2 linked regions of the Homo sapiens genome follow. The protein of the gene in region 1 purifies or fractionates together with the protein of each later gene. This does not show direct contact. Each region holds a gene or a part of one and is shown on either strand. Other genes may lie near its edges.

What was found. Proteins that work in one complex are often made in the same cells at the same time.
Region 2: the proteins of CEP112 (region 1) and ERC1 purify together in Homo sapiens (affinity purification with mass spectrometry; one large-scale study listed by BioGRID and IntAct). This does not show direct contact.

What each region holds. Positions count from the first base shown.
Region 1 is NC_000017.11:65,636,052-65,639,703, forward strand, and holds part of CEP112 (centrosomal protein of 112 kDa), read right to left. Parts: intron 1,138-3,652; coding exon 1,073-1,137; intron 1-1,072.
Region 2 is NC_000012.12:1,025,580-1,029,231, forward strand, and holds part of ERC1 (ELKS/Rab6-interacting/CAST family member 1), read left to right. Parts: intron 1-2,168; 5' UTR 2,169-2,324; coding exon 2,325-2,993; intron 2,994-3,652. UniProt on the Homo sapiens protein: Regulatory subunit of the IKK complex. Probably recruits IkappaBalpha/NFKBIA to the complex. May be involved in the organization of the cytomatrix at the nerve terminals active zone (CAZ) which regulates neurotransmitter release.

The DNA.
Region 1 (3,652 bases):
GAGAAGTTGATAGGGGTTGAAAAGGCTATTTGATATCAAAATGTCATAATTTATGCTTATCTATAAGGGATCAAATCTTACCTACACCGAGCAAACAGAATCTTTCGAAAAATGTGTGATTCACAAGATCTTTCCTTTTAATTCAAAGCCAAATAAGTAGTTCAGTCTTTCACTGCACAAACAGGAAGGGCGTTTGATGGAATTACAGCAGGTAAACACAATCTATGTTAGTGATGGCACTGGGAACCTTTGACTACAAAAGGTCTCATGCATCCCCAAAAAGAGCACTGAGGGTACTCAAGTCACTGTGAGTGCTGGATCACTGAGCTGTTGGTCTATTCTGGTCTGGAGAACAATGCCAAACCCTTGGGGGAAAGGACTTTGAAGATGTGAGCTATCCTAGCAAGTACTGCATCATCTCACTATCTTAAAGGAAGATCGTGTCTCCTTCACTCCATCACTGGGCCTCAAGACAACATCTTGTCCTCTTGTCCAGGTAAGGCCTGGACCTGCCATGCCCCTGCAGATCCTTCCATCTTTCATCTTTCTTTTTTCTTTTTCTTTTGTTTTTTTTTTTGGAGACAGAGTCTTACTCTGCTGCCCAGGCTGGAATGCAGTGGTGTGATCTCAGCTCACTGCAACCTCCACCTCCCAGGTTCAAGCAATTCTCCTGCCTCAGCCTCCTGAGTAGCTGGGATTATAGGCGTGTGCCACCATACCTAGCTAATTTTTGTATTTTTAGTAGAGACAACGTTTTACCAAGTTGGCCAGGCTGGTCTTGAACTCCTGACCTCAGGTGATCCTCCTGCCTTGGCCTCCCAAAGTGCTGGGATTACAGGAGTGAGCCACTGTGCCCGGCAGATTCTCTCATCTTGTTTTGATAGTACAGACTAAGCACTGGGATGAGAAGGGGGGTGACTTCTTAAAGACATGCTACTTACTAAAAACAAGTCTTTTTCAAAACTTGTATTATATCCAAGCATTTTAATAAAGACAAAGGCCAGACAAGGAGGCTCACAGGTGACACAACACAAACTAATCAGGAGACAAGACACCTGCTTATGGGCTGTACCTTCTGCCTTGATATGTAGTCAGTTCTTCCTGAAGGATGGAAGCTCTCTTTTGCAGAAAATTAACCTAGAAAAGACACCTTGTGTGAGAAGAGGTGGACGTGGCTTACATGTCAATATTGTGCAAATAGTATGGTAAGATTTTATTTAAATTCAGACAATTCCCTAGATAAAACTCAGAGGATTTGTTGAATGTCAATGTTGTGTTTTTTACATTTGGTCACATCCCATCCTTATTGAAAATCCATCAGTTACGACAGAATAAAGTTCAAACTCCTCATTGCAGAGCCATTTTGATCTGGCCCACCCCCATCATTGTGGCTTTACCTGTCCTCACGCCCTGCCCACCACTGCTGCTTCCACACCGTGTCTTTCTCGCTCCGTTGCTCTTTGGCCCAGGCCATTTTCTCTCTTTGGAACACTTGTCTTTCTGTCTCCCATTCATCCTCCACCATTTGGTTTAAATGTCACCTCTCCTGTGGAATCGTTCACCTCCTCCCCAGCTGCTCCTTGCCTCCTAGCCCCAGGCAAAGCCAGCGGTCCCCTCCTCTGTGTTCCTCCCCTCTATTACTGGTACTTCTCAAACTGCTTTGTGGTTATTTGTTTTCATATCTCTTCCCTAAACCTGAGAGCTTCTCTTGGGCAGGAATGACTTTTCTGTCTTTCCACCCCAGTTTCTTTTACAGGGCTGGGCATGTAGCTGGTTTCACTAGCTGTTGAATGAATGAATGAATGAGTGAGTGTAAGGAAAATTACTGCTTTCTGGAAACCTCAATCCATTCTAGGGATTCCCTGAGGTTGGAGAGACAGAACTTCATAGCGGAAAGAGCCTGAGCTTTGTCTGGAGTTAGGCCAACTTTGGTTCAATTCCTGGCTTGCCATCTGTGGCTCTAGGAAAATTACTTAAGCTCTTGATGCTTAATCTGTGAAATGGGATTAATGACAGCTACTTCCCAAGGTTATGAGGATGACATGAAACAACTATAGAAACCGCCTAGTGCAGAGCTCAAAGCAGGTACAACCCCCAGACCGCCATTCTTAGGGGGCTGGAGGAAACTGGGTTGTTTAGCATATTCTCTTAAATCAGACCTTTACAAAGCATTTGATTATTGTGTAGCATACATTTCTGTACTGTTAAAGATGCCTGTATCAGGCGTGGATTCAAAAGCACCTTACACAACCCAAATGGTTTGGGGCCAACTTATACCATGGCTTAATGTAATCAAGAGTCAGTGGTATTTGATCGTTTCAGAATTGTTTATTCTTACGTCTTTGGTCTGAACTGAAACCATGGCAACGGTTGATCCCGAAACATAGTTATGCAAGGGAGTACAGCTGGCAGAACAGAAAATGTGCTTGAAAGAGAAGAAAACACAGTCTTTCTAAGTGGGTGCATCTCAAAGTGGTCCTCCTGGTTTTGCTTATTTGTATAGCACCCTGGTCTTCATTTTATCCAATTGCTCAAGTGACCCATAGGACAATTGATAATTTTGACAGATGCAGGGATTACACTGATTCAACTTCCCTCCCCCAACCATGCTCTGTAATCGGAATTCCAACAATTCTCAAAAAACACAGGCACCTGTGCTTTCAAACTAAATTTGCTCACTGTATGGCCTGTGACTCCTGCGTGCAGCTGCCAACTCTGAGGCCCTATCGCAGCTGGCAGCACTCTCTTTCTGGGTCAGCATCCAGTTTTAGGAGGCTGAAGTGGCTTTTATTACAGTGAAATGATATGAATGATAACAGAAGCCCTGCAGGTGGGTATCAGATTCCTTTTTTTTTCCTCTTCCTAAAAAAACTCCTCTGAAGGCGTCAGGTCCTACATAGCTGACACTATCTGTAGCTCACCTACAAACTTAATGGGTAAACCACACCTGGAGTGGAGATTTTCATGTAAATAAAAATTATTTAACCCTTTGTATGTTCCCATTCTCCTCCACTACTTATTTTTATATGCAGGCGTGAACAAAATTTCATAGCCCTTAGAAGCAAAATCGCAAACAGTAGCATATGGATTGAGATTATGAACATTTCATTTTCAGATAAGAGAAGTTTTACTAGGGGAATATAAAAGGAACAGCTAAAATGTGTTCCACATTTTATCTTACATACTATAAATAGATAACGTGGATATCATCAAACCATATCATTTATTTTATTCATAAATATATTTATTAAGCACCTGTTATGTGCCAGGCAAAGTACTTGATACAGGGAGTAAATAAATCCTTTCCTTCATGGAATTTTTCAAGGAAAAAATATGTCTTAAACTTCAAAGTGGGCTGGGCACGGTGGCTCATGCTTGCAAAATGAGGCTGAGGTGGGCGAATTGCTTGAGGTCAGGAGTTCGAGACCAGCCTGGCCAAGATAGCGAAACCCTGTCTCTACAAACAAACCCCCGTTTCTAAAAATTAGCTGGGCGTGGTTGCATGCACCTGTAATCCCAGTTACTTGGGAGGCAGAGGCAGGAGAATCGCTTGAACCTGGGAGGCAGAAGGTGCAGTGAGCTGAGATAGCACCACTGAACTCCAGCCTGGGTGACAAAGTGAAACTCTGTCTCAAAAAAAAAAAAAAAAAAT
Region 2 (3,652 bases), on another chromosome or scaffold:
CTAGTACTTTTAATGGCTTAAAAAATTTATATCTTTAATGTATATGGAATTTATTTTGGTGTACTATGTGAAGACGAGTATACGTTATGTTTCTCAAAGAGCAACAAGTATTTAAACTTCATTTATTGAGTGATTTTTCATTTCCTCACTGTATTAGTCTGTTCTCATGTTGCTAATACAGACATACCCGAGACTAGGTAATTTAAAAAGGAAAGTTTTTTTTTTTTTTTTTTTTTGAGACGGAGTCTCGCTCTTGTCACCCAGGCTGGAGTGCAGTGGCGCGATCTCGGCTCACTGCAATGTCTGCCGCCTGGGTTCAAGCTTCTTATGCCTCAGCCTCCTGAGTGGCTGGGATTACAGGCACCTGCCACCATGCTTGGTTAATTTTTGTACTTTTAGTGAGATTGGGTTTTGCCGTGTTGGTCAGGCTGGTCTCGAACTCTTGATGTCAGGTGATCCACCCGCCTTGGTCTCCCAAATTGCTGGAATTACAGATGTAAGCCACTGCACCCTGCCAGGAAAGAGGTTTAATGGACTCTCAGTTCCACATGGCTGGGGAGACCTCACAATCATGGCAGAAGGCGAATGAGGAGCAAAATTATGTCTTACATGGCGACAGGCAAGAGAACTTGTGCAGGGGAACTCCAATTTATAAAACTATCAGATCCCATGAGACGCACTCACTACCACCAGAACAGTAGAGGGGAAACTGCGCCCATGATTCAGTTAAGTACACCTGGCCCCACCCTTGATACATGAAGATGATTGCAATTCAAGGTGAGATTTGAGTGGGGACACAGCCAAACCATATCACTCACTGTTTGGAAACGTTACTTTTAACATATATTAAATTCCCATATATAATTTAGACCCTGTTCTTGGGCTAGTACTATACAGTTTTCGTTATTATAGTTTTACAAGGCTACAATACTTTGTAAGAAACCTTGCAGGTCAGATGTGGTTTTGTTGTCAGGAATTTTTTCCAGTAATACTTAGTGGACATTATGTAGTATCCAGTAATCACACACATTGTTTTCTTAATGAAATATATGAAGTCACACTATGTGGGATACATATAAACAGTAAGTAAGCTCAGATCAGGTCAAGGTTTGCTGCTAGATGAGTTAAAAGGAAAATCTTATTTTCAGAGGTTTTTGGATTTTTGCAGTACAAATGAAGAATTATGGATTTGTAATTTATGTTGCTGTTGAGGGCTGTCTTCCTTCCTTGTTCATCTATTTTAAATTGTTTGGTTACTCTTGTATCTTTACTCTCCATTTGAATTTTAGAGTCAGCTTGTTGAGTTACTTGAAAAATCCTTCAACACCTGTGAAAGGAAGGGATCTATAGCTGGTTAGCAAAATCCTGTAGAGATTTTTCACTGGGATTGTGCTAAGTAGTTGGGGAAGAACTAAATCTTAGCAGTGTTTGTCTTCTCATCCATGAACACAGATAACTTTGTTTAGGTGTTCTTTCATGTCTTTCAGTAAAATGTTATAGTTTTTTTCCCCCAAAATTCTTGCACATTTCTGTTGATTTACATCAAAGTACTTTTATGGTTTTGTTGCTGTTGTGAATGGGATTTAAAATTTCCTTTAAATTAAAAACTGCATTTTCTAGTTGTTACTACTGATGTATACATTGATACTTATATATTGATATTGAGTTTGACCAGTTTGTTGAGTTCTGTTATTCTAATAACTTGTCAGTTGATTATCTTGGGTTTTCAGTTAGCAAGTCAGATATTCAGACATTGAGTTTAATCTTTTCCTTGTCAATCTTTATACTTCTTGTTTTTTTTTCTTTTTCTTTTTTGTAGACAGGGTCTTGCTATGTATCCCAGGTTGGTCTTGAACTCCTGGCCTCAAGCGATCTTCCTACCTTGGCCTCCCAGAGCGCTGGGATTATAGGCATGAGCCATTGCACTTGGCACTTTTTTTGTTTGTTTTCCAGTTGCATGGTATGTTTTCAGCGTTCAGTTTTGAGACATCTAAAATATCTCTAAAATATTGTTTACTATGAGTACATTATGCTGTAATCACATTCTGAATGCGTGAGTACATACATGGTAGAAGGGCTAGATCTTCTTTAAGTGGGGGTAATGGAAAGTCTCTGAGAAGGGAAATATTTATTATTGGAGGATTTAATGTGTGATCTTTTCATTACAGATATGGTGTAAGATACTTCTTCAAGATTGGACAGCTGGGGACCTTCTTCTGATTAACCTTAAACCAACTTGTAGCCATAGAGACACCTCACAAGGTTCCCATTTTTGTTGTTGTTGTTGTTGATTTTCTGCTCACACCTTTCCTGACCTTGCAACCATGTATGGAAGTGCCCGCTCTGTTGGGAAGGTGGAGCCGAGCAGCCAGAGCCCTGGGCGTTCACCCAGGCTTCCACGTTCCCCTCGCTTGGGTCACCGTCGAACCAACAGTACGGGAGGGAGTTCGGGAAGCAGTGTTGGAGGTGGCAGTGGGAAAACCCTTTCAATGGAAAATATACAATCTTTAAATGCTGCCTATGCCACCTCTGGCCCTATGTATCTAAGTGACCATGAAAATGTGGGTTCAGAAACACCTAAAAGCACCATGACACTTGGCCGTTCTGGGGGACGTCTGCCTTACGGTGTTCGGATGACTGCTATGGGTAGTAGCCCCAATATAGCTAGCAGTGGGGTTGCTAGTGACACCATAGCATTTGGAGAGCATCACCTCCCTCCTGTGAGTATGGCATCCACTGTACCTCACTCCCTTCGTCAGGCGAGAGATAACACAATCATGGATCTGCAGACACAGCTGAAGGAAGTATTAAGAGAAAATGATCTCTTGCGGAAGGATGTGGAAGTAAAGGAGAGCAAATTGAGTTCTTCAATGAATAGCATCAAGACCTTCTGGAGCCCAGAGCTGAAGAAGGAACGAGCCCTGAGAAAAGATGAAGCTTCCAAAATCACCATTTGGAAGGAACAGTACAGAGTTGTACAGGAGGAAAACCAGGTAAGTTCTACGTGTGTTTACCTTTATTGGCTGAATTCATGTATATAAATGAAATAGCCTTTTTTTCCCCTTTCCTAGATTTTTCCCTTCGTAGTATATGTATCTTCCTTTTTCCTATTGATTTTACTGTTTTGTGTCCTCCATTTCTCAGCCCTTTCCAAATTTGGTCCTGTACCCTGTTTTCTTCTAGCTGCCCATGTCTCCTTGCTCCCATTCTTGCTTGGTTCTTTTCTCTGGTTTCTCTTTCTCTTCGTGTCTTTCCTTTCAGCATATGTTATCTTTTTTTTTTTTTTCCAATTCTTCTGAGAGTATAATTTTGCCACACTCTCTAATATCTATTACCAAATGTATTTTAGAGTAGGTAACTTAAATGTAAGGTATACCATTAAGATTTGTCATAATGTCAAAAAGTCATTCTTAAAAACAAAACAAAATGACTATCACAGGATAAGTCAGTGTTGTCAGCTGAGAACAGAAATTACTTTTAAAAAGTTAATGTTGGCCGGGTGCAATGGCTCACACCTGTAATCCCAGCACTTGGGAGGCCGAGGTGGGCGGATCATTGAGGTCAGGAGTTCGAGACCAGCCTGGCGACGTGGTGAAACCCTGACTCTACTAAAAATACAAAAATTAGCCAGGTGTGATGGCGTGTGCCTGTA